Homo sapiens: one gene and its partners. The protein of the gene in region 4 purifies or fractionates together with the protein of the main gene of each other region. This does not show direct contact. Each region holds a gene or a part of one and is shown on either strand. Other genes may lie near its edges. The genes, in order: KCNIP2, UBAC2, FAF2, STK17B, SLC2A1, UBA52 and SDAD1.

Region 1 (4,064 bases), on a different chromosome or scaffold from region 4:
GGAGATCCAAGCGCAGGGCATTGCTCCTAAAGACAATCTTACCCTCAGCCACTTGTCCCCCTCTTAGGCCTGAACTCCCGCCACAATTCCTGCTGGGTTGATTAAATCAAGTGGTTGGAAATTAAAGCCAATTGAAGAGATTAAGTGTGCTTGAGTCACTTTAAAGTTTTTGGTCTTAACAGGTCACTCCTTTGGACCCACCAGACAAGGTCCCCTCATCCTCATAGCAACGGGTTGGGGGGCTTTTGGGTGTGGAGCCCAGGAAGCATCCTGAGGAAGGTCAGACCTGTGACGCTCAAAACACTCAGGATCCATTCCTGGGAGATGAGGCAGCCCAGCTTCCGTGCTAGCCCTGCCTTTGGAAAGGAGCTAATCTTAAGGAAGGGGTTTCATAACAAGGGCATTTCTTTCCTACTCTGTATCCTGACTTGGATCCCCAAACCTGTCAGTTGCTCCCCATATCTGCTGGAAAACAAGGAATCTAGGACAGGACAGGTGACAAAAGAGAAGGGCAGAAAAGTTGCTGCAGGGGAGGAACAAAAGAGCAAGGATGTCTTGAGAAACTGACCTGGTTCACTAGTTTTTTTATCTTCCTAGTCGGCCTATGGGGTTCATTAGATCAGTGAAGGAGGCACCCTGAGAGTGAATAGGTTCCAGAGACGGGGTCCTGGAGTGGGTGAGAGTTGGGGTCCTTCTGGAACTTGAGAGAAGATGAAACAGTAGTCCATTGGCCCACGATGAGCCTGCTAATATTAGAGGCTGGGTTGACTCTTCCTTTGCATCCCTAACCTGCTTTAAGCACGGTGGGGACTGTCTGGGACCACGAGAGACGCATACACGGGAGGAGGAACAACAGAGAAAATACAGGCTGACATGGAGACAAACGGAGCGGGGACTCAGATATGATACCCCAGGCTCTGCCTCAGCCAGAACTGTGTTGACGAAGGGGGACGGGGTGCCTGAGAATTGGGGGCGGGGTTTCCTCCTCTCAGTGGGGCTCTTCTGTCCCGCGCTCTCCTCCTCCCCCACCCCCCCCCCCCGCCAAGCCCCGTGACTTCTGCTTTAGGGGCAGATTGCTGGGGAGCTAGTCTCCTTCCCCGCACTTTGCAGTTCACCCTTTCACCGGGTGCCTCCCCCGGGCTGCAAAGGGTGGGGGGCGGGGGTAGGGGGAGCCAATCCCGGCAGCGCCAAAGAGGGGAGGAGGCGGTGACAGCCGCGGGGAGGGGGCGGGAGGAGAGAGGCAGCTCGGCTCGGCTCCGCGCTCAGCTCCGCTCTGCCTCCGGCTCTGCGCTCACCTGCTGCCTAGTGTTCCCTCTCCTGCTCCAGGACCTCCGGGTAGACCTCAGACCCCGGGCCCATTCCCAGACTCAGCCTCAGCCCGGACTTCCCCAGCCCCGACAGCACAGTAGGCCGCCAGGGGGCGCCGTGTGAGCGCCCTATCCCGGCCACCCGGCGCCCCCTCCCACGGCCCGGGCGGGAGCGGGGCGCCGGGGGCCATGCGGGGCCAGGGCCGCAAGGAGAGTTTGTCCGATTCCCGAGACCTGGACGGCTCCTACGACCAGCTCACGGGTGAGTCAGTGACGTGGGGGTCGCGGGAGGGAGGGTGGATTCCATTCCTCCAGACCCTTCCGCCTCTCCGACCCCGGCCTGGCCCGCACCCACACTCTGCCCCATTCCCAGGCACTCTTATGGCCGGTCTGGGCGGCAGGACACTGGGGGTTCAAAGCCTTGGGTCCCGCAGGGGTTGGGGAGGAACAGAAGAGGCAGGTGTGGAGAGGCAGCAGGTGTGGGCGTATGTGACACAGGGCTGAGAGGGTGTCTGGAGTGGGAGGTGTTACGTGCGTGAGCACCTGTCATTCTGTGTGTGTGTGTGTGTGTGCGCGCGCACCTCCCACAGCTGGTTGCCATGTGCCCTGGGCTTGGTGACAGCTAGGGTGAGTGTGATTGTATGTGGCAGTGCAATTGTATGGTCTCGTCAGATGTTTGAGTTTGCGTAGGACCCTGGTTGTACTGATGAAGTTGTTTTGACCATGTGTCTCTATGTGCAACGATGTGTTGTGAGTGTGTAATTCTGTATGAAGTGGTGTGTAACTACCAGAATGTGTCAGGGCTCTACTTTAGGGTGGCTTGTCTCTTTGTAAGCCTTCATGACCATAAGCCCTCTGGGCAAGAATTTGTTAAAGTAGGTTGTGTTGTGTTTTGTGGTTGTGAGATTAGTGTTCAGTGCTAGTTGTGTACTTTCATGTGGTGATGTCTGCAGCGGGGCTCTGTGAGTGTCTATGACGTGTCTCATCCCTGCTGCCTCTCTGGCTTCCTGGTACAGATAGGGGTCTTTAGTACACCCCACTCCTTCACCAATTTTTCCACAAATAGCCCAGGTGGACCCAAGGAGGGACTTTAGTGTTCAGCTGCCCAGTCTGGTTTCCAAGAGACCTTATGGCTCCAGCACCTGGCCCCTGTAGGGAGGCTTTAGTTAGTGCTGGGTCAGCCCTCTCTCCCCACACCAAATCATGTACTGAGATTATTCTTACAACTGAATCCTTCAACCCCCAACAAACCTTTCAGAACTTCACTCAAACCCCAGGAAAACACATCCTCTTCCTTCCCCTCCAGAGACAGAGCTAGAAGCTCTAGGCCTGGGAAGTGCCATGTGGTGTCCTGCATGTCCACCAAACCACTTGGCTGCCCGGGCATCCTCTCTTTCCCACATGGGGAGGTATGTGAGGCCAGTACATCTGTGCATGTGCATGTTCCTGGGTTTGGTAGGAAGAGCCATGTGTTTGTGTAGGTGACTGTGTCACCCTGGGTACATTTCCATGTATGTGTTTGTGTCTCTCATTGTGCAGCCTGCTCTAGAAAGCCAGCAGAGTGGGAGGAGGGAGGCTGTCTCCCTGAGGCCAAAACAAAGCTGGGGAGGTGGAGGGAGGCCATGATCCTTGTCCTTCCTGAGGGGAGTGAGATTGAGACCTGGGAAGGGGGAGGGGACTAGGATGAGGTGCCTTGAGCATGTGTCTTCCCCCATCCCCCATCACTGTCCCTAGGGAGGCCCTAGTCAGGATCAGGGGAGCCACTCAGGCTGGCCCCAGATGAGAGACCATGCCAGATGTGCCTCAGAGCTGGATGGAATCCAAAGGACCCACTGTCCAGCTCTTCCATGAATTCTGTTCCCATCACCAGCTTAGGATTCTTGAGAGTAGTAAGGGCCTAGGGGCCTTCAATAGTATCACATTAGTCAGTGTTTGCTTCCAGCTTTAATGGGTTCTCACCCTTAGTGAAACCATCCCTTCCCCACTTGGCTATTTGAATGAGATTGGGTGGGGGAAGCATTTGTATTTGGAGATGCCCTGCCCCAGTTCAGTCAGGAATGGAAGTGTACCAGCTATGTGACTTTTGTTCTCTTGGCCTCACCTTTCTCATCTGTAAAAGGGAATGTTACTTCCTGCCTGCCTGCCTACCTCCCAAGGAAAATGGAAAGGTCAAATGTTGACAAGTATCAAGAATTGTGGTCCGGGTCTACAGCAGCCTAGCTGTAGATAGCTCCACACACGACTTGGAAAGTAGAAATAGGACTACCAGGAGCTCTCCTCTCGAAGGGCGGCTTATTTTATAGCGGGAGACAAATCGGGTTGGGACGCCAGTGTCAACGAAGACTCCCGGGCGGGCGGGCGGCGCTGAGCTCTGAGCGCTGAGAGATGCCTAAGCTGAAGCATGAAGGGGAGTCGTTGTCCGCGGTGCTGAAGCGCGCGCCAGGCTTCGCCTCCCCTTCCCTGCAGTTGGGATTCCTGGGATCGGATTTAGGGTAGTCTGCAGCTCCCGTCTTCCCGGCCCATCAGGCTTGCAGGGAAGCAGCTGGAAAGTTACACCTCAGGGCATCCTGGGTACCTCCGAACATTTTACTTCCCCACTCCCACCCCAAGCTCAAAAGGGAGCTGGGAGAGACTCTTTAGGAAAACAAAACAAAACAAAAAACAGTCCGAGCCCCGCCCGGACCCCTGTCTAATCCCTCAGGTCTTCCCAGCCCGGCGGGGCCGCTGGGCAGTGCGGTTCCGAGGGGAAAGGCCGCG
Region 2 (3,500 bases), on a different chromosome or scaffold from region 4:
TCCACCATGCAGGTACAGACCATGCCTGGCCAGCCCCGCAGCCCATGGTGCCCCCCTTCCTTCCCACCTCTCTTCCTCCTTCCCACCTCCCTCCTGTGACCCCTTCCCCTTCTTTCTCCCTCCCTTCTGTGACCCCTCCTAGCACACATAGTCATCATCTTTGCGCTTTCCTGTCTCGTTTTACTGCTTAGTGTGTGGTTTAGGTTCATTCATTCACAGAAGTGGAATCGTGTTTTCAGGCTTTGGGTCTGGCTTCTTTCTCCCAACATGGTGTTTTTAAAATGCAAACCTTAAATATTCCGCATGAATTTGAGGCTTGGCATTTACATTCCAACAAAACACCCTGTTAAGATTTTATTTTGAATGATATTTAATTTATGTATTAATTTGATGAAAATTGGTATCTTAAAAGTTTTGCATCTTCCTATTCATGGAACTGGTATCTTTATTATCACTAGGGTTGGTTTTGAAAAAATATCCCTTATTATCTTTTTCTTTTTTTTCTGTCAAGGCCTTATATATATATTATTTATTTATTCCCAATTATCTTACAGTTTTTCTTGCTGTTATTTGCTAACAGTTTATTTTTTCTTTCTAAACAGTCTGTATTTTATCCCTGGTTGCTTTTAAGGATTTCTTTCTTTTGTTTCACCACAGTGGATCTAGATGTAAATTTCGTTTTAGCATTCTTTTAGGGACTCTTGCCCTTTCATCCTAAGGATTTATATTCTTTCTTTATTCTAGAAAACTCTCAGCTGTTTATCTCTTTAAATATAATATCCTTTCCCCCATATTCCCTCTGTTGTCTTCTTCTGGAACCCCTATGCTGACAGCCGCATGAGATGCACATAATCTGCCTGTGCAGAGGCCTTGGCCTTCCCAACCCACATGGACCCTCCTTGGTTCATGCCCTACACAGCTTTTCCCTTCTCTCTGTGGAGGGGAGAAAGGGTACATGGAGCATGAGGAGGAACTGGGGTGCCTCTTACCCAGACTTAAGTAACCCTCTACTTCTCTCCTCCTTCCACAGGGCCTAGACCCTCTAGTCCAGGGGTATCTAGTCTTTTGAACTCTTCTGTGACACATTGGAAGAAGAATTGTCTTGGGCCACACATAATATACACTAACACTGAAGATAGCTGATGAGCTTTAAAAAAATTGCAAAAAAATCTCCTAACTTTTTTTCTTTTTTTCTTTTTTTTTTTTTTTTTTTTTTTTTTTTGAGACAGAGTCTCACTGTGTCGCCCAGGCTGGAGTGCAGCGGCACAATCTCGACTTACTGTAACCTCCACCACCCAGGTTCAAGCGATTCTTGTGCTTCAGCCTCCTGAGTAGCTGGGACCACAGGTGTGTGCCACCACGCCCGGCTAATTTTTGTATTTTTAGTAGAGACGGGTTTTTACCATGTTGGCCAGGCTGGTCTCAAACTCCTGACCTCTTGTGATCCGCCCGCCTTGGCCTCCCAAAGTGCAGGGATGACAGGTGTGAGCCACTGCGCCCAACCTTGTAATGTTTTAAGAAAGTTTATGAATTTGTGTTGGACCACATTGAAAGCTGTCCTGGGCCACATGTGGCCCACAGGCCTCAGGTTGAACAAGCTTGCTCTAGTCCCTGTGCTTTTCTGAGTCCCACAGGACTCTCTGCAGGCATTTGGACTTATATGCTGCTTATATGCAGAGTGGTTTATAATCACTTGATAAGCTTTCTATTTTGTTAGCATGGTTCAGGATTAGTTTCTGGTTTCATGGACCTTGGAGTTTGTTTCTGTTTTCATTTTCTTTGTCTTGTACTATTTTTGAGTAAAGGGGCACAGAAATTATTTGAAACCAGAAGTTGTCCACCATTCACTCTTCAGCCTACTACAGTCTGTCTTTGGTACCAAAACTGTTCTTGTAAACACCTTGTTTATCAAACACCTCCATTTGCAACATCCAGTGGCTAGTTCTGTCTTACTTATCAGCTGCATTAGATATAGCTGACCATCCCTATTTTAAAACACTTCTTAGCTTCAGTGATAACTAAACTCTATTTCCCTTCTCTTCACTGGCAGCCCTGTCTCAGATTTCCTTACTGGCGTTTCCTACTCTGTCTGTCCATAGAATATTTGTGCACTCCTGGATTCAGTCCTTAGTCCTGTTCTCTCTTCTGCTGTGTCTCCTCCTCCCCCCCATTTTATCTCCTCTAGTCCTGTTACCCTAAATGTCATATCATATCCAGTGACTCTGAAATCCTTATCTCGACCTTTTCCTTGAGTTCTAGAATTACATAGCCACCTGCCCACTCAGTAGCCCCCCAAGATATCTAATAGACACTCCCAAGCTCGGGCTGCGCAGCATCTGCTGCTTTCTCTGCCCAAAATGTTATTTCCCCAGTTCATCAAGTCACGGGCACCGCATCATCCTTAAGATCTTCGCTCAAGTATCACTTTCTCTGAGGGCTCTCCTGATGTCCCCCGCTGCCCCCAGAGTAGGTTCGTGCCCCATGTCACTTTATTTCCTTCCCAGAACTTGCCAGAAATAGTTTTATGTGTTGACTTGATTACTGCCTGTTCTCCACATTGACTGCTATAAGCCCTGTGAGAGTGGGGCCTTGCTTATCTTGTTCTTTGCTGTATTCTAAGTTCCCAGAACAGTGCCTGGTGTGTAGCACAGTCTCAAAGAATTCTTGCCAATTCATCAATTTAAATTTTATTTTTAAACATTGAAGTATACTTTTCTCATATTAGAAAGTTGTCAAATATGTTCTAATCTGATCTTCTAATCCTAAGAATCAAATTCACATCAAGATTTTTTTTTTTTTACAAAGGAATAGCCATAGTCATTTTTAACTAGAAAATCATAGGAAGCCTTGAGACTTCTGTAACCATACATTATAAATGACCTTCAAGATGAAGACAAGGTTGGTTTATAAATGGAACTAATATTGGTGAGGATTTTAAATGTCTAGAAAAATCAGTAGTTGAAAAACTGATTAAAACACTATGTAAATAAAAACCAAGATTTTAGATTGTGTTTATTCTCTGATAAATTGATCGTGTGACTGGGTCAGCTGAGACATGGCAGTTGTTTTCTGCTGGTGTCTCTGTGATGGCCATCTGCCAACAAAGGTAACCGCAGAGTCAGTACAGTGTGAAAGTGTTTCAATAATCAGATCTTTTACGGCTTTTTAAAAAATGAAGACAGTGTCTTGACAATCTTTTACCAGAACTTTGAATACTAAATGATTAGAATTTTGCTAGCTCTTCTAATTCAATAAAAAACAATTTTGTTTTACTAAGTTCAATTTTGTGTTGATTTGCACTGCTTAGTGTTCTGCAGTGTGGTAGAGGATTTTGCTTATTGCCTAACACTGCTATGACTAAGAAAAATACCGTGTGCAGTGTCTGGAGGCTGCTGATTTTTGAGTCGTGTACATTTTTTAAAATAATACTACATTTAAACAATCACATTGGACGTTTTTCTTCTAGATGTCCGGTCTGTGCTACGACAGCAAAATGTTCC
Region 3 (3,500 bases), on a different chromosome or scaffold from region 4:
TCACCAGTCAAGTTGTATTCCTGACAAGAGGCAGTTATATTTGCTCCCAAACTAGTGTGTGCTGGTTATGTTTGTCACATGTGTTTAATTAAACACTACATAAACCTGTAAAATACCAGTGCAAAAAGAGTTTTCATCGATACGAAAACTAAATTAAAAGCTTTAAACAGGCTCTGTCTGGGGAAATTGCTAAAAAAAAAAATTGTTGTTTAGTTAGGTGTGGGCAAGTTAACTGTAAATGACTTAGGGAGAAATCATTGAGATACAACATTGTACACTTACTGCTTGGCAAGTGTTTAAGGTTGCACTACACTTAAGGAAATCAAATCAGTATGGGTTATGCTAAAAAGATCCCAGCCTGGGCAACATGGTGAAACCTCATCTCTACTAAAACTACAACAAAAAAATTAGCTGGTCGTAGTGGCGCATGCCTGTGGGCCTGTGATCCCAGCTACTTGGGAGACTGAGGTGGGAGCATCACCTTAGCCTAGGAGGTGAAGGCTGCAGTGGGCTGTGATTGCACCACTGCACTCCAGCCTGGGTGACAGAGTGAGACCCTGTCTCAAAAAAAAAAGTAAAAAATAGCCAGGCACAGTGGTGCACGCCTGTAATCCCAGCACTTTGGGAGGCTGAGGTGGGCAGATCACCTGAGGCCAGGAGTTTGAGACCAGCCTGGCCAACATGGTGAAACCCCATCTCTACTAAAATACAAAAATTAGCCAGATTTGGTGGCGGGTGCCTGTAATCCTAGCTACTCAGGAGGCTGAGGCAGGAGAATTGCTTGAACCTGGGAGGCAGAGGTTGCAGTGAGCCAAGGTCGCACTAGTGCACTCCAGCCTGGGTGACAGAGTGAGACTCCCTCTCAAAAAACTAAAAATAAAAACTAAAGAAGTTCCAAGGAGTGCTAGTGGATTCATTCCCTAAAGAAAACGATAGGCTTTTATCAGAAACTTATGTTCATGTGAGTACTTTATGTTAAAATGAAATATTTACATAAATATTCATTTATGTAAAAATGAAAACATGTAAAATGTTAAAATGAATATTTTTATTACTTTGACTTCAGTTAATTGATTAGTTATGGGTCTCATTCTCATTGGGTAAGAGAACTTCTGTCTTTGTCTTATAGAGATATGATTATATTATACTTAACTCTGCATAGCATAGGTAAGTAGTCATGAAGACTGACTGGGTTTGTTTGATTGAGACAGAGTTTTGCTCTTGTTGCCCAGGCTGCAGTGCAGTGGTGTGATCTCAGCTCACTGCAACCTCCACCTCCTGGGTTCAAGCAATTCTCCTGCCTCAGCCTCCCGAGTAGCTGGGATTACAGGTGTGTGCCACCACACCCGGCTAATTTTTGTATTTTTAGTAGAGATGGGGTTTTGCCATGCTGGCCAGGCTGGTCTTGAATTCCTGACCTGAGGTGATCCGCCTACCTCGGCCTCTCAAAGTGCTGGGATTACAGGCGTGAGCCACCGTGCCCGGCCCAAAATATATTTTTAAAACTTAAAATGAACAACTCAATCAAAAGGTAGGGAAAAGATCAGAACAGACAACTCACCAAAAAAGATATACAGATGGCATGTAAGCATATGAAAAGATGCTCAAATCTTTAAGGATTTGAGGTCCTTAAGGAATTGCAAATTAAAACAGCAATGAAACAGGAACTCTCCTGAGCTCAAGCAGTCCACCCCTTGGCCTCCCAAAGTGCTGGAATTACGGGTGTGAGCCACTGCACCCAGCCTCAACTGGAATTTCTGTTCCACTGGTCTTCCCCTATATATGCCAATATAACACTTAATTATAGAGGCTTATGATATATTTTGATCTGGAGGAACACCCCTGCCTCCACTCTGTTGCTCTTTTTCAGAGTTTTCCTGTTTATTTGCTCCTCTAAAAGAAATTTGAAATCAACTTTTTAAAGTTGAAATTTTATGAAATTTGTAAATGAACTTCAGGGGTTGTAGTTGACATCTTTATGTTGCTGAATCTGTTCAAGAACATAGTTATATCTTGGAAAGGTTTTGACATACTTACTCAGTAGTGTTTGCTGGCCTCCCTTTTTTGGGGTACTTCTTTATTTGACAAGTACAGACACTTATTATCAAGTTGGTTCAAAATGCGTTATTTTTTCAGAGTGGGCTGGGCATCGATATTTATGAACTCCTCTAAGTATTTAAGAGGAATATTTCTGAACCTTGCAAAGTAGTATACATTCTGATTACTCTGAGTAACAGATTACCTTTACAGCAGATAGTCTTTTAGAAGTAGGTCTTTGAGATGGGTATTGATAAAGATTAGTATTTTTTGTTTTGTTTTTTTGAGACGGAGTTTCGCTGTTGTCCCCAGGCTGGAGTGCAATGGCTCAACCTTGGCTCACTACAACCTTTGTCTCCCAGGTTCAAGTGATTCTTCTGCCTCAGCTTCCAGAGTTGCTGGGATTATAGGCGCCCACCACCACTTCTGGCTTATTTTTTTGTATTTTTAGTAGAGACAAGGTTTCACCATGTTGGGCAGGCTGGTCTCGAACTCTTGACCTCAGGTGATCCACCTGCCACAGCCTCCCAAAGTGCTGTGATTACAGGCGTGAGCCACTGTGCCCGGCCATAAACGTTAATTTTGTCATTTTTATTTTGGACCATCTGAGGATTATTTCACATATTCAAGGATTCTAGTTGTCGTTTCTCCAACATTGTATTTTTGCTTAAAATTAGTATCAAAAATGAAATAGTCATAAAACTGATTATTTGATTTGAACTGTTTTCAGGGGTGTGTGTGTGTGTGTGTGTGTTTAATACTACTGTTAGTGAGAGTGCCAGAAGTGATGAATAGCAGAAATCACCGTGAACACTTGGGGGGCCTGTGTGTGGGCCTTGGACTTTTCCACCAAGGAAATTATGAAAACTTTCTCACAGTCCTGGAATAAATTTGAAAGAGAACAATTTTTCATACTAAATACTGGGGAATATTTTTAAATGTGTGTTTGTAAATTCTTATTGGAGTTAAAGTCACAAAAAGTCACAGTCCTTAGTTAACCCTCTTGTCATATGCATTGCCACTGCCTCAGTTTATACTTCATTTCTCCTCTGGACTAAACTTGTATAACTGGTAGCCCACATTTAAAGTCTTCTCAATTCAGCCTTCCTACTTTTTCCAGAATAATATTTCTATTCTCTTTCTCTTCTCTTTTCACTCCTCTTCTCCCTTCTCTTCTCTTCCTTGACAGAGTATCTGTCGCCCAGGCTGGAGTGCAATTGTACAGTCTTGGCTCACTGCAGCCTCCGCCTGCTGGACTCAAGCCATCTTTCCAGCTCCCCTTCTTGCGTAGCTGGGACCACAGGCACGTGCCACCACGCCCAGCTAATTTTTGTATTTTTAGTAGAGATGGGGTTTCGCCATGTTGGCCAGGCTGGTATTGAACTCCTGGCCTTAAGTGATCCACCTGCCTTGGCCTTACAAAGTACTGGGATTACAGGCATGAGCCACCACGTCTGGCCTCA
Region 4 (4,076 bases):
GAAAAGTTAATTCCAGTGTGTGGCATTTTATTTTCATCCTAACTTTAGGCTTCTCTAGTCAGCCCAATTGTTAGCAACAAGAAATTAGATAGATGGAAGCAATATTCTCCATTTGACAAGGTTTAGGGGCAAGACATTATTAACCTGGGAGGAGGAGTTAACCTAAGTAACAACAAACAGACTTCATAAAAGGGCTGTGATGCATTCTATACCTTTATCTTGGGGAAAATGCAGTAGGAAAGGGAAACAGCTAGCTTCACAGGAATTTGCTTGGCTTACTGGGATAGAACAAGAAAACCTGTCCTTTATATGCTAACTGAACATTAAGTCTTTTGAAAGCAAGAGGACGACTCCACTCCCAGTATCCTTTCCCACGGAAGGGTTTTCTGCAATTATCGTAAATGTCCTCTGAAAGCAATCCTAGATTACATAACTAATCCCATATATGTATGAGTATGTGTGTATCCTATACATATAAACTAGGATTATATATCTATGTAAAACATTTGTGTCTTGCACAGAACTTTGAAAATTTCCACTGTCTTCAAAGGATAACAGATCTTGAGTAGGTTGCTGAGGGCTTTCATCTTTTTCCTTAGCACTATAAATGCAAAATCGGCTATTCAGCCTATTGGGACCCTCCCTACACTGCCTTCAGTCAGTGCCTCAGAAGGGACACCATTCGCGACAGCGGACGTTAGCAGTGGGGTCTAGGTTCCATAAATCCCCAACTGATGTTGACACTCCGAGGAACCTCTGCCAAGTTGTAGCAAACTGGGTTCTCCACTTACAGGGTACGTTCCGGTCCTAAGGAAGACTCTCAAGAAGAGTCAGAAAATAGGTCTTTGGTAGGCACTGAAGTTTGGTAACTAGTCGCAGGCAGCTGGGACGAATTTTGCGGCTTCCTTCTCCCCGGTCTCCGGATATTCACACCTCTCGAACTGACCTCTCTGAAGGTGGGAAGGAGTACACAGAGCAGTAGTTCCAGCCCCGCGCGCCCCCTCTGCAGCGCCGCCCCCTCCGCCCCTCCCTCGCGGCAGCCCGAGTGCGCCCCACCTGCGCCGCCACGCCGCCGCGCCTCCCCGCCCCGCCTCGGGCCAGCCAGGCGCCGCACCCTCTCACCGCCGGGCCCCGCCCCGCACACGCGCCCCCGGCCGGTGCCCCGCCCCTCCCGTCACGTGACAGACCCACCCTCCGCACCCGTTCCGATTGGCTCTCCCGACCTAGGGGGAGGGATCTGGCGAACGGCGATGCCCCAGACGCGGCTGCAGTTTTCAAACCGCGACTGCAAGCTTCGGTAGTCCTCTCCGCTGCTGTCGCCAGGAGTCACTTCACGAGAAGCCAGGTCACAACCGTCGGCCCTTGTCTGGAAAAGTAAAAGTGGATCCTGCCACGTTCGGAGCTCCCTGGCGCCTCGCCCGGCTGGAGCTAGAGAACTCGTCCTGTGGCGGCCCCCGGCGTGGGGCGGGACAGCGGCCCCCTGGAGGGGGCAGTCCCGGGAGAACCTGCGGCGGCCGGAGCGGTTAGTGTCCTGCGGGATTGGCGGGTTGGCTCGGGGCTGCGATGGAACCAGCCGCCTCGGTACAGAGACCTCATACGTGAGGAAGGAGGACCCGAGGAGGGTTTAGGCGGTACGGTCCGGCTGAGAGGGGCTTGGACTCCGCCGCCCCTGAGGTGGCTGATTGCTGCTGGCGCCTCTCCGCTTTGCGGCTGGAGTCCGGGTTCCCTGGGGCTCCGCGCGGGGGGCGGCCGGCGGTCCTCCCACCACCCTCCTCAGCCCGGGGCGCGTGTCTGTGTCTGTGCGTGTCCGTGTGTCCCCGTGCGCCCTCCACCCGGCCGGCCCCGGCTCTCCCCAGGTCGCGCCAGGCAGGGCCCCCTTCGCGGCGGGCCCGCGCGGGTCCCTTCCACAGCAAGGCCACGCGGTCCCCCTAGCCTCTCCCGAGTCCCAGCTGCGGCGTGGGCGCGTTCCCATCGGGACTCGTGGACGCGTCCTGCTCCCAGCTGCCTTTCGTCTAGAGAAAGTTCGTGTTCATCTTGTGGGACGTTTTCAGTTACTGCTTGGGAACAGTGTTTTAAAACCAGCGAGAGATCAAGACGGGCTACAGCTGTTTCCGTGATTTTCAGCGATCTGATTTTTGCTTTGATGCCTTGTGACCCACTTAGTGTGCACGACTCATCCTCAAACTATACCACTACTGGATGCCAACGATTTTTGACATTTACCCAGGCTCTTTGTTTTATTGTAGGGAAAAGCGTTTCATTTGAATTTCCTCCGAGGGAGAAGTAGAGACAAAGTTGAAAGAGGCTTTATAGCAGCTGGTAGCTGGCATTAGTTTCTGTCTGGACTAGAGGCACTCTGACATCAATTTGGAAATTGGAATTAAGAAAATACGTTTTTAAAATCGTAATACTTATCAGATTTCACTAATATTTAAACACATGAGGACTGTGTATCACATTCACCGATTGTTTTGTCGACGTAATGTTTACATCTGTGGTGCTAATGATAAGCAGAACCTTGCCAGGGACGTTTGACGTGGTGTGGCCACTTTACGTTTTCAAGTCTATGAGAATGTCTGCGCGGAGACAGCATAGCTCTGTAGAAATGAGTGGCAGCGTATGTAACCTGGCATTTTGAACCCAGGAGCACAATTTTATTAAAGGAAAATAAACCTACTTTCTCATTGATAACACTGTTTTTTAGTTTTATGGTGAACTGTTCGGAAGTAATTTTCAACAAGTGCTTATTTTATAAATATTAGACCGTGTACCCCTAGGATTGTGTATTTTTTAAGAAAACTGGTCCATAGAAGCGGTGCAAAAGTTTTAAACTCATCTGCCTCGGATCCTCCTCCTCTGAGCAGATGCTCAATTAAACTTTTTCTAGTATCTTAATAATTGGAGGTATTAATAGATGTTTTATTTTTGAGATACATATTGTACATTTTAGATCTTTTTTTTTTTCTAAAGTAGGGATCCAAAATTGAGGTGAAATATATTTGCTTACATGGCAAGACTTTTTAAAAGTAGAATTTCTGTAATTGAAGACCATCCTTTTTTGTGTGTGAATAGAATGGTTGCGGTTTCTCTTGGGATCATTGATTAGTGAATTACGATTTGGTTAAGATAGAATGCGTTTTTAGGAAGTTGGAGGTTTGACTAATCGCTGTGTTAGCATATGAGTAACAAATTTGAAGAAGATACAAGCATTTTTATGGCTGACGTTTCTAATCAGATAATTTTATTTTTAAGCTTGCTCTGTTTTACTTTTGTTAAGTGAACATTTTAACATGTTTTAAAGCTCTTTGATAATTATAAGGGAGAATTTCCTTATGAAAATATTTTTGCTTTAATTTTAGAGACACAAGAAGTCAAGGAATTCAGTTAATAACACTTTCACTTAATCGTTAAATTGCCTTAAAATTGCATGCATAGTATATTGTAATTCACATTTTCTGTATGTAAGATTGGCAGTTAAGAATAGTATTCTGGCCGGGCGCAGTGGCTCAAGCCTGTAATCCCAGCACTTTGGGAGGCCGAGGCGGGCGGATCATAAGGTCAGGCGTTCGAGACCAATATGGTGAAACCCCGTGTCTACTAAAAATACAAAAATTAGCCGGGCATTGTGGCGCGCGCCTGTAGTCCCAGCTACTCGGGAGGCTGAGGCAGAAGAGTTGCTTGACCCGGAAGGCCGAGGTTGCAGTGAGCCGAGATCACGCCACTGCACTCCAGCCTGGGCAACAGAGGGAGACTCCGTCTCAAAAAAAAAAAAAAAAAAAAAAAAAATAGTATTCCTAGGCTTACTACTTTTAAAGGATACTGATTGATTCTTCTTTTCATAAAGAAATCTTCTGCACTGTATGGGTATTTGTTTTGTCAGAAACATTAGCAGTCATTTATCTACTACCTTTCCACTTAGGAAAACTTCAAATGTCAGTTGCTTTAGTTTTTCATAATATTGATGACAAAATTCAGTGATTTTATGTTTAAGTACTGTAGTTTGTATTCTATGCTGGGCTGTTATCAAAGGCTATTTCTTTGAATATTTCAGTTAAGAAATGTTCTTATAAAGTTAC
Region 5 (3,500 bases), on a different chromosome or scaffold from region 4:
CAAAAAACAAAAGCGAAACCAAAAACAGAGCAGTGTGTATATTGTATGCTACCTTTTGGGTTAAAAAAAAAAATTGGCTGGGGGTAGGGGGAGAATATACACATCTATTTAAAAGAATGCACAAGAGGCTAGGCACGGTGGCTCACATCTATAATCTCAGCTTGAGGCCAGGAGTTCGAGACCAGCCTGGCCAACATGGCAAAACCCTGTCTCTACTAAAAATACAAAAATTAGCTGGGCATGGTGGTGCGTGCCTGTAGTCCCAACTACTTGGGAGGCTGAGGGACAAGAATCACTTTATCTGGGAGATGAAGTGAGCCGAGATGGCGCCACTGCACTCCAGCCTGGGCGACAGAGCAGACTCTGTCTCAAAAAAAAAAAAAAACAAAAAACAAAAAACAAGAATGTACAAGAAAGGTAACATTCTAACCCCGGGGGGGCCTGGGTGACTGGGGACAGGGTGAAAGGGAGATTTCATTTTATAGCCTTTGGCACTTTTTTGAATTCTGAATGGTGTGAATGGAATCACCTATTCAAAATAATTTTTACAAGCCCTGTGATTTCATATTACTTAGAACAAAGCAATTTAAATAAAAACATTAAGTGGAAAATAATACAAATGATCCATGGATCTGGCAAAAATTATGTTGGTAGAGCATGAGTGAATGACACTGGCTATGTGAGGTAAGTGCTATTATCACAGGCCCTGTTTTACTGAGGTCTGCATCTGATGTTCCAGGGGTCTGGAGCCTCTGAAGTCATCCCTGGGGCCCCACTGAGCAGCTGCTCGACTGTAGCCTCTGTCAATGGGGGCTGCTGGAGGCCAAGGACATACCCCTCCGCTGGACCTTGTCATCAGCAGGTCGAGGTCAAACTCGACTTTAGAAAACCTGCCTACCCACTCCCTGGGTCATATCCACATCCACCCAGGCAGCTGCTGCACTAGGACTGACTAAAATACCAGTGACCCATGCTCTAGGTCTCATGCTAAGTAGAGCTGGGGCCCCGGATGAAACTGGACCCAGTCCTGACACCAAGGAAGGAGTTTCCAGTACAGTGGGGTGGGGGCAGTGGGGAGGCAGATGAAGATGAGAGGCTAGTGTGGTCTGGGCTTCAACAGGGGGCTGGTATGAGGCACTGTGAGAACCCTGGAGGGAAAGATTTCCAGTTTTGCCTGGGTACAAAAAAAGATGAGTTCCCAGGAGGTGACATTGGAGCTGGGCTGTGAAGGACACACAGAGAGTCTGCCAAGTGGGAAAGCAGTGGCAAGGCTACATTCCAGGTGGACAGAACAGTATGTGCAAGGAGAAGAAATGGGGACCAGTCAGATTAAGAAACAGCGTGCTCAGTGTGGCTCAGTGCTAGGTGTAGGGGGAGGGACATGGCCCCTGCTCCTCAGTAGGCACAAGACACTGCGACCAATCTCAGATTCATGCTGCCACTCTGCTGCGCCCACTATAGCCGGCTTGATCATTGCTGGGCTTGGAAGCAGACCCACGTTTAAATGCAGCAAGCTGCCTCCTTTCACCTTGGAGTTGGATACAAGGCAGCCCTGCTCTGGGCCTTGGTTTCCTCACCTAGAAAACGGGGATGAAAGTTCCTTCCTTAAAGGGTTGCTGTTACGTTTTCTATCAGTATCCATCATGAAGCCTGGCAGAATTCCCTCCACAAGTGTTTGCTGGATCGGTGAAGAATAGCAAGCTACCCTCGATCGGGCAGCCTCAGCACCATCTGCCCCCACCAGCCAGTGGCTAGAACTGGAACATGGCAATGAAGTCCATTCACTCAACGTGTATTTATTTATTCTGGTGTCAAGCTGATGAACAGTTGGTGATGACTTAGAGAAGGGTACTAGCCCCATAGAGCTTGTGATTTTCTTGTGGGAGCCTTTTTTACTGGTGGGGAGCAATGTACAGCCCAGAGTCTGGGATCCCCAGCAGCCCATCAGCACTCCCTGGGGATGAGACTACTTTCTAGAACATTCCATTCTCTTCCAGGCCTTTGCTCTTGCTATGTCCTCTGCAGTCTCTAGCTTATTACCCATCTGCCACTCAGTTTGGGAACTCCTTAAGAATAGAACCAGGGGCAGGACGCGGTGATCCCAGAACTTTGGGAGGCCAAGGTGGGCGGATCATTTGAGCTCAGGAGTTCAAGACCTGCCTGGGCAATATGGTGAAACCAGGTCTCTACTAAAATTACACACACACACACACAAAAAAAAAAAAAAAAAAAAAAAAACAGCTGGATATGGTGGCACACATCTGTATCACCTGAGCCTGGGAGGCAGAAGTTGCAGTGAGCCAAGATCATGCCACTTCACTCCAGCCTCGGCAACAGAGTGAGATAAAAAAAAGGAATGGAACCTGGGTCATACCGTGTCTGCAGCCAGAGTGACGAGAGTAGGGAACAGCACATGCTAATTGCCAAACAAAGAAACCTGCCACTTTTCAATTTGGCTTTTGGGCAAAGCTGGCTCTGTGAGTATCTGTTGTGCCAGACCAGTGTTCATCCTTAGCCATTTATCAAACCCCTGACGAGTGCTGGAACATCAGAGCTCTGAGAGGTAAATACAGCACCCCACAAAACCCTCCACTCCAAGCCCACAGGGCTGTCAAGGAAGGACCTCTGAAGTCAGGCAGACTGAGTTCAAATCCTGACTCTCCTAGGAGAGTCATGGCCTCCCAGCTTGGCCAGCAACTGGGCTCAGGGTCCAGCACAGAGAAGCATTTCTCATGTCCCCACCCCTCACCCTCCCTATCCCACCGCTGGGGGTCTCACGACCCACAAGAGCCCTCCCTCTCCCAGGAAGCCATGGATGAGGTGTTAAGATTCAGGACCTCTCCCCCAACGCTCGGATGCCAGATGGCCCTGGCCACATTGTATAACTTGCCAAACACTGTGGCCTTTTGACCCATGTCAGTGTGTCAGCATTGCGCTCCAGCCCCAGGGTTGGCCTGCAGCAGGTTCTCAATCTATATTGGCACAGGAAGGGCACGTGGCTACTGCTACTCAGAGGCAGGGTATTCCTGGCAAGAGGAGGGTCCCAGGGCTGGCAGACTCCAGATGTTGCTCCATCTTGTCCTCTTCCCACAGCATCCCACATGGGTTCCCCAGGTGCAGGGAAGCAGGGGACGCAGGGCTTTCCAACTGCTTAGTCCACGGCTCAAAGGAGTGGGGGAGGGGTTTACCTGAATCCATGACAGCTCCCTTTTAATTTGTTTTGTTGTGTTTCTTACTCATTTAAATGAACTTCTGGGCATTAAAAGAAAGAACCTCAAGGCTGGGCGCGGTGGCTTACACCTATAATCCCAGCACTCTGGTAGGCCGAGGCGGGCGGATTGGTTAAGGCCAGGAGTTCCAGACCAGCTTGGCCAACACAGCAAAACCCTGTCTCTACTAAAAATAGAAAAGTTGGAGCCGGGCACGGTGGCTCACCCCTGTAATCCCAGCACTTTGGGAGGCAAGGCGGGCAGATCACGAGGTCAGGAGATCGAGACCAT
Region 6 (4,054 bases), on a different chromosome or scaffold from region 4:
CCGGATTCAAGCGATTCTCCTGCCTCAGCCTCCTGAGTAGCTGGGATTACAGGCACCCGCCACCACACCTGAAAAATTTTTGTAATTTTTTTTTTCTTTTTTGAGACGGAGTTTTGCTCTTGTTGCCCAGGCTGTAGTGCAATGGCACTCTCTCGGCTAATTGCAACCTCTGCCTCCCGGGTTCAAGCGATTCTCCTGCCTCAGCCTCCTGAGTAGCTGGGATTACAGGCATGCGCCACCACGCCCAGCTAATTTTGTATTTTTAGTAGAGATGCGGTTTCTCCATGTTGGTCAGGCTCGTCTCGAACTCCCGACCTCAGGTGATCCGCACATCTCGGCCTCCCAAAGTGCAGGCGTGAGTCACCGGACCCAGGTCCCGCCCTGGCACTTTTTAACCACCCACAAATCTGGATCCTACACTGAAAAGAGACACTGCAGTGGCTCACGTCTGTAATCCCAGCACTTTGGGAGGCCAAGGCGGGCGGATCACCTGAGGTCGCGAGTTTGAGACCAGCCTGACCAACATGGAGAAACCCCGTCTCTACTAAAAATACAAAAGTGGCCAGGCATGGTGTCGCACACTTGTAATCGCAGCTACTCGGGAGGCTGAGGCAGGAGAATTGCTTGAACCCAGGAGGCGGAGGTTGCGGTGAGCCGAGATCGCGCCATTGCACTACAGCCTGGGCAACGAGAGCGAAACTCCGTCTCAAAAAAAAAAAAAAAAAAAATCCTGAGTCCCGCTTGACACCTTTTGTCAGGCACCACCACCTTTCTGGGCGAATGCGGTAGTACCGTCTGCTCTCCCTGCTGCTGTCCTGAAATCCATTCAGGCACAGCGGCCGAGAGCTTTATAATAACCGATTCCAGGTGTTAGGTGCTTTCCCAGCCCCGACTCCTGCGTCCTGGACCCGCAGTCCTCTGCTTAATACCTTTGCTTTATTAGAAAACATTCTCCTCTACTCCGTTCAGCTATTCGCTGAGGGCCCGCCAACCGCCAGCGGTTGTCAGTGGCCTAGAGGCAGCGGACGCAAACACGGGGAGAGGTGCAATCGTCTCAAGTGACTCGGCGGGCGGGGCCCACAACCGGAAGCGGGTGGGCGACCTTCACCCACGTGCGCTGCGGCTTCGTTCGCCAGCATCCAAGATGGCGGCAGGGCGGGGCCCAAGGCGCGGCGCGAATTGTGACGCAGGCGTCCGGCGTGCTCCGTGCGCAAGCGCTTTCGGCGGCGATTAGGTGGTTTCCGGTTCCGCTATCTTCTTTTTCTTCAGCGAGGCGGCCGAGCTGGTTGGTGGCGGCGGTCGTGCGGGTTCGCGCCGGGCCGAGAGCGGGTTGGGGGCTGCGGGAGGCTGCAGGGGCCTGGGCGGCAGAAGAGGCGGCCCTGAGCTGGCTCATGCGGGCCAGTCTCGGCAGGGTGGCTGGGCAGGGCTCGCGAGGCCACGGCTCGGAGCCCAGACCGGGGCCCAGGAGGCGAGCGCCGTTTTGGAGAGGAGCCTGCCTGCTCTGCCTGCCAGCGTGACCCCACGAGGCCTCGGGCGGGAAGAGGTCCTCGGGGCAGATCCGAGTTAATGAGAGAGGGGTATTGAGCGTGTAGCGTTAACTCTGCCAGTCACTGCGTCAGTCGCTTTGGAAATACTAAATTTCTCGAGCTGAGTCTTCATACCTGGCTCCATTACTACGTCTGTAAGGAGGAGCTGGTGGTAGTGTCTGCTTTTTAGACTTTTCTTTAGACTATTTGTATTTTTTTCAGATGGAGTCTTGCTCTGTCGCCTAAGCTGGAGTTCAGTGGTGCGGTCTCGGCTCACTGCAATCTCCACCTCCCGGGCTCGAGCGATTCTTCTGCCTCAGCCTCCCGAGTAGCTGGGATTATAGGCGCCTGCCACCACGCCCAGTTGATTTTTGTAGTTTTAGTAGAGACGGAGTTTCACCATGTTAGCCAGGCTCATCTTGAACTCTTGACCTCAAATGATCCGTCTGCCTCGGCCTTCCAAAGTGCTGGGATTACAGGCATGAGCCCCTGCGCCCGGTCGATTCTTTGTCTTTTTAAGTCAACTTTTATATGTGAACAATGCTTGGCAGGTGGTTGGTAGATACTAAGTGATGTTCGTGGTTTGGGGTCAAGGCAAGAAGTGGGGTCTGGAGAGTTTTGGTGTAATTGAGAAGGAAGCTAAGAGTGTTGGGTGCTCCAGCTTGGAGTTAGAGAGGAGAGAGGCTGCGACAGGAAGGCATGTGTGTTGTAGGGGATGGCTTCCCATCCAGGCTGGCAGCAGGAGCAGCCTGTGCAGATCAGGACCTGGCTGCCGTGGAAGAGGGTGGGACCGCCTTCAGGGAAGATGGATCTAGCAAGATGATGCCAAAGGGTACTTATTCCATCAGGAGATACTGACGAGTCCTTCCGCCGCTAAACCTAAGGAGAATAACCACAGTCTGTGTTCCTGAAGAGCACCCGTGCGGTCAGGAGGGTGGAGGACATGTGGTCTTTAGTTCCAGGACATGTTTAGACTACAGGCCAGGGTGTGTGAGAAGCCTAGCAGGGCCAGGCTTGGAGGAGTGAAAGGAAGACAGGTACTGGGGCAGGACCAGTTGGACTTGGTGCAGGCAAAGGGATAGCAACTGTGGTGTAGGCACCTGAGCTTGTGCTACTCAGGCATGCATTGCTCACCAGTCTATCCTGCCTCCCTTCCTCCTGCAGACGCAAACATGCAGATCTTTGTGAAGACCCTCACTGGCAAAACCATCACCCTTGAGGTCGAGCCCAGTGACACCATTGAGAATGTCAAAGCCAAAATTCAAGACAAGGAGGGTGAGTAGGGCTGGGTGTGGGGGCTCTGGCTGTGAACTGGGAGTCCCTCTCTGCCCAGGGGAGTCTCAGTCCTGTGTGGGTTGTGCTGACTTTAGATCTGTTTTGCCCTTGCTTCTCCATGTGATCTGAAGAACGTTTGTTATCTTCTACCTCAGTTGGCCTTTTGAGAAACTGGGGGTAGTGCTGGAGCTCCCCTGCAGAGGACACTGCCAGTAATATGGTCCGCAGAGCCTCTAACTGAGCCTCCCTCCCCCTCAGGTATCCCACCTGACCAGCAGCGTCTGATATTTGCCGGCAAACAGCTGGAGGATGGCCGCACTCTCTCAGACTACAACATCCAGAAAGGTACCGGGGTTGGGGTTGCTGGGCAGGGACCCAAGATCCCCAGGTCCTAGGAAAGGAGCATTGATGGCCTCAGGGGTTGGGGAGCAGTTCAAATGACTTGTGTTTTGTTTAAAATAATGGGACTGGGCACAGTGGCTCATGCCTGTAATCCCGGCACTTTGGGAGGCTTAGGCGGGTGGATCACCTGAGGTCAGGAGTTCAAGACCAGCCTGGACAACGTGGTGAAATCCCGTTTCTATTAAAAATACAAAAATCAGCTGGGTGCAGTGGCTCAGGCCTGTAATCCCAGCACTTCGGGAGGCTGAGGCGGGCAGATCACAAGGTCAAGAGATTGAGATCATCATGACCAACATGGTGAAATCCCATCTCTACTAAAAATACAAAAATTAGCTAGGCATGGTGGTGCGTGCCTGTAGTCCCAGCTACTCAGGAGGCTGAGGAAGGAGAATTGCTTGAACTCGGGAGACAAAAAAAAAAAGTCATAATGTGAATTTTTTTATCACTGCAATAAGGAAATTAGTGTCACTTGTGGGAGCGACAAGAATTCAGTGTCCTTTTTTTGTGAGACAGAGTCTTACTCTGTCACCCAGGCTGGAGTGCAGTGACGCGATCTCACTGTGACCTCCGTCTCCCGGGTTCAAGCGATTCCCCTGCCTCAGCCTCCCGAGTAGCTGGGATTACAGGCACCCGCCACCACGCCCAGCTAATTTTTTTTGTATTTTTAGTAGAGACAGGGTTTCACTACGTTGGCCAGGCTGGTCTCTTAAAGTGCTAGGATTACAGGCGTGAGCCATGGTGCCCCGCCTAGACTTCAGTGTCTGACCTTGCCTGAACCACTTAGAGGTCGGCTTCCATGTTAGAAACCCAGATGGATGCCTCAGTTGGCATGTGTCAGTCTCAGACTCCCC
Region 7 (3,500 bases), on a different chromosome or scaffold from region 4:
CCTGTAATCCCAGCACTTTGGGAGGCCAGGGTGAGAGGATCACTTGAGGCCAGGCGTTTGAGTCCAGCCTGGGCAACATAAAGAGATCCCGTCTCTACAAAAAATAAAAATGAAAAATCAGCTGGGTATGGTGGTGAACGTCTGTGGTCCCAGCTACTTAGGAGGCTGAGGCAGGAGGACCTCTTGAGCCCAGGAGTTTGAGGTGGCAGTGAGCTATGATTGTGCCACTGCAGTCCAGCTTGGGTGACAGAGGGAGACCTAGTCTTTTTTTTTTTTTTTTAAGGTACCAAAACAGATACATAGACCAATAGAATAGAACAGAGGCTTCAGAAATAACGCCACACATCTACAACCACCTGATCTTTGACAAACCTGACAAAAACAAGCAATGGGGAAAGGATTCCCTATTTAATAAAACGTGTTGGGAAAACTGGCTAGCCATATGCAGAAAGCTGAAACTGGACCCCTTCCTTACACCTTGTACAAAAATTAAATCAAGATGGATTAAAGACTTAAACAAGAGTCCTAAAACCATAAAAACCCTAGAAGAAAACCTAGGCAATACCATTCAGGACATAGGCCCGGGCAAGACTTAATGACTAAAACACCAAAAGCAATGGCAACAAAAGCCAAAATTGACAAATGGGATCTAATTAAACTAAAGAGCTTCTGCACAGCAAAAGAAACTATTATCAGAGTGAATAAGCAACCTACAGAATGGGAGAAAATTTTTGCAATCTATCCATCTGACAAAGGGCTAATAGCCAGAATCTACAAGGAACTTAAACAAATTTACAAGAAAAAAAAAACCCCATCAAAAAGTGGGCAAAGGATATGAACAGACATTTCTCAAAAGAAGACATTTATGCGGCCAACAAACAGTGAAAAAAAGCTCATCAGCACTGGTCATTAGAGAAATGCAAATCAAAACTACAATGAGATACCATCTCACGCCAGTTAGAATGGCAATCATTAAAAAGTCAGGAAACAGCAGATGCTGGAGAGGATGTGGAGAAATAGGAACTCTTTTACACTGTTGGTGGGAGTGTAAATTAGTTTAACCATTGTGGAAGACAGTGTGGCAATTCCTCAAGGATCTAGAACCAGAAATACCATTTGACCCAGCCATCCCATTACTGGGTATATACCCAAAGGATTATAAATCATTCTACTGTAAATACACATGTACACATATGTTTATTGCAGCACTATTCACAATAGCAAAGACTTTGAACCAACCCAAATGCCCATCAATGATAGACTAGATAAAGAAAATATGGCACATATATACCATGGAATACTATGCAGCCATAAAAAAGGATGAGTTCATGTCCTTGCAGGGACATGGATGAAGCTGGAAACCATCATTTTCAGAAAACTATCACAAGGACAGAAAACCAAACACCGCATGTTCTCACTCATAAGTGGGAGTTGAACAGTGAGGACACATGGATACAGGAAGGGGAACATCACACATTGGGGCCTGTTGGGGTGGGGGGCTAGGGGAGGGATAGCATTAGGAGAAATACCTAATGTGGATGACAGGTTGATGGGTGCAGCAAACCACCATGGCACATGTATACCTGTGTAACAAACCTGCACATTCTGCACATGTATACCAGAACTTAAAAGTATAATTTTTAAAAAGGGGTGGCAGTGGGGGGGTGGGATTTTGACTGGAGAGCTTCATGTACTTGAGATATAATTTATATTTCTGCCCTGTTATTTTTCTGCTGATTTGAGTGCTCTGCATACATGGATATGGTAGTAGGGGTCATTTATTTTTATTTTTATTTTGTGAGACAGGGCCTCCGTGTTGCCTAGGCTGGAGTGCAGTGGCATGATCATAGCTCACTGCAGTCTCAACCTCCCTGGGCTCAAGTGATCATCCCATTTCAGCCTGTTGAGTAGCTGGAATTACAGGTGCACGCCACCACACCCTGCTAATTTTTGTATTTTTTGTAGAGACAAGGTCTCCCTGTGTTACCCAGTTTGGTCTCGAACTCCTGGGCTCAAGTGATCCTCCCACTTTGGCCTCCCAAAGTGCTGGGATTACAAGTGTGAGCCACTACACCCAGCAGTCGGGATCATTTAGATAGTAACTGGCAGAACAGGGCTACAATCTGAATTTGGGATTCATGCTTCTCTGTTCTTACACCATGCTGCCTAAACTTGTAGTGATAATTCCAAGGAAAAGTTCTTTAGATTATCTGTGATGTGCTCAGGTCTTTAAAAAGCGCACTTTGAAGAATGCAGATAAGGCAAAAGGAGTGTTTTTATATACTTTTGCATTATCTTTTTCTCCATGTGATCGTCAACAGTTTCTACTAAGAATTTCTCTACTGAATGTCTGTACTGAGAAAGTCATGTAATACAATGTGACAAACTTAAATTTTATTTTTCTGCAGTTTCTACAGCAGTATAATCACTACAAATCCAATGTGGAGATTTTCAAATTGCAACCAAATAAACCCAGCAAAGAACTAGCAGAGCTGGTGATGTTTATGGCACAGGTAAGAATATAATTGCTTAAATAAAGACCAGTATTAACACACAGTTTGCTGAATGTTTTTTCACTAATACTCAACCTTATTCCACTCTGGAATGGGAACTTAATTAAAATATTTTTCTAACTTTCCCTTTTTGCAAATTTTATTTTCTCCCTATCATGAGTTAGAGAATGTCACTAGATCTTTTTGCATAACTAACCAGGACAAAACTTTAAGACTATTTTTTTTCTTCAAATTCATCATAAAAGCAGGTACTAAATCATGCCATAAATATTACTAAGACTAGAGAAACCATGATAAATGTTGGAGAAATTAACATGTAGAAGGAAAAGAAGGTTGTTTGGAACCATCTACTTCTATGAAACATAGCCTTTTACTCTCGTTTTGCAGAACATCCTAAATGTATGCATCTGAATTATAGGAGAGAAAGAGAGCAACTTCAGAAGAGCCTTTGCTTTGTTACAGATTAGTCACTGCTACCCAGAGTACCTAAGTAATTTTCCTCAAGAGGTGAAAGATCTTCTCTCCTGCAATCATACCGTATTGGATCCAGATCTGCGAATGGTAGGACCAGTAGTTGGATGAATAAATTGTGCTGTGTTCATGTGTGCTGCGTTCATATATATTTAAATGAGAACAGCCTCTAAGCTAATTATCTTCAGAAAACGTAAATTATAATGTATTATCCTTTCCTAAAAATCCTTCTATGGCTTCTCATTTATACTTAGAGTAAAACGGAAACTTAATAACCTGGCTCAAAAGTGCCTGCATGATCTGCTTCCAGCCTGTGTTTCTGATATCATATTGTTTTCAGCTACACTGTGATCTTTCTATTCTTCCAGCACACTAACCCTACAGGATGCTCTTTAACCTTTTGAGATGATTTCTTCTAGTCATTCAAATCTCATATGCATGTAGAATCCTAATCACAACTTGTCATTTTTATAATGCCTTAAATTAGTAAACTTACCCATTAGACAGTCAGTTTGA

Evidence for each region.
Region 1: the proteins of STK17B (region 4) and KCNIP2 purify together in Homo sapiens (affinity purification with mass spectrometry; 3 studies listed by BioGRID and IntAct, with this or other methods). This does not show direct contact.
Region 2: the proteins of STK17B (region 4) and UBAC2 purify together in Homo sapiens (affinity purification with mass spectrometry; one large-scale study listed by BioGRID and IntAct). This does not show direct contact.
Region 3: the proteins of STK17B (region 4) and FAF2 purify together in Homo sapiens (affinity purification with mass spectrometry; one large-scale study listed by BioGRID and IntAct). This does not show direct contact.
Region 5: the proteins of STK17B (region 4) and SLC2A1 purify together in Homo sapiens (affinity purification with mass spectrometry; one large-scale study listed by BioGRID and IntAct). This does not show direct contact.
Region 6: the proteins of STK17B (region 4) and UBA52 purify together in Homo sapiens (affinity purification with mass spectrometry; one large-scale study listed by BioGRID and IntAct). This does not show direct contact.
Region 7: the proteins of STK17B (region 4) and SDAD1 purify together in Homo sapiens (affinity purification with mass spectrometry, with the first as the bait; one large-scale study listed by BioGRID). This does not show direct contact.

Annotation. Positions count from the first base shown.
Region 1 is NC_000010.11:101,841,001-101,845,064, reverse strand, and holds the start of KCNIP2 (A-type potassium channel modulatory protein KCNIP2), read left to right. Parts: upstream 1-1,264; 5' UTR 1,265-1,496; coding exon 1,497-1,569; intron 1,570-4,064. UniProt on the Homo sapiens protein: Regulatory subunit of Kv4/D (Shal)-type voltage-gated rapidly inactivating A-type potassium channels. Modulates channel density, inactivation kinetics and rate of recovery from inactivation in a calcium-dependent and isoform-specific manner.
Region 2 is NC_000013.11:99,336,854-99,340,353, forward strand, and holds part of UBAC2 (ubiquitin-associated domain-containing protein 2 isoform 1 precursor), read left to right. Parts: intron 1-3,466; coding exon 3,467-3,500. UniProt on the Homo sapiens protein: Restricts trafficking of FAF2 from the endoplasmic reticulum to lipid droplets.
Region 3 is NC_000005.10:176,454,885-176,458,384, forward strand, and holds part of FAF2 (FAS-associated factor 2), read left to right. Parts: exon of another isoform or gene 1-113; intron 114-3,500. UniProt on the Homo sapiens protein: Plays an important role in endoplasmic reticulum-associated degradation (ERAD) that mediates ubiquitin-dependent degradation of misfolded endoplasmic reticulum proteins.
Region 4 is NC_000002.12:196,168,779-196,172,854, reverse strand, and holds the start of STK17B (serine/threonine-protein kinase 17B), read left to right. Parts: upstream 1-1,276; 5' UTR 1,277-1,522; intron 1,523-4,076. UniProt on the Homo sapiens protein: Phosphorylates myosin light chains. Acts as a positive regulator of apoptosis.
Region 5 is NC_000001.11:42,945,369-42,948,868, forward strand, and holds part of SLC2A1 (solute carrier family 2, facilitated glucose transporter member 1), read right to left. Parts: intron 1-3,500. UniProt on the Homo sapiens protein: Facilitative glucose transporter, which is responsible for constitutive or basal glucose uptake. Has a very broad substrate specificity; can transport a wide range of aldoses including both pentoses and hexoses.
Region 6 is NC_000019.10:18,570,603-18,574,656, forward strand, and holds the start of UBA52 (ubiquitin-ribosomal protein eL40 fusion protein isoform 1 precursor), read left to right. Parts: upstream 1-1,254; 5' UTR 1,255-1,307; exon of another isoform or gene 1,308-2,005; intron 2,006-2,237; exon of another isoform or gene 2,238-2,345; coding exon of another isoform or gene 2,346-2,358; intron 2,359-2,690; coding exon of another isoform or gene 2,691-2,698; coding exon 2,699-2,801; intron 2,802-3,059; coding exon 3,060-3,146; intron 3,147-4,054.
Region 7 is NC_000004.12:75,980,946-75,984,445, reverse strand, and holds part of SDAD1 (protein SDA1 homolog), read left to right. Parts: intron 1-2,408; coding exon 2,409-2,513; intron 2,514-2,900; exon of another isoform or gene 2,901-2,975; coding exon 2,976-3,074; intron 3,075-3,480; exon of another isoform or gene 3,481-3,500.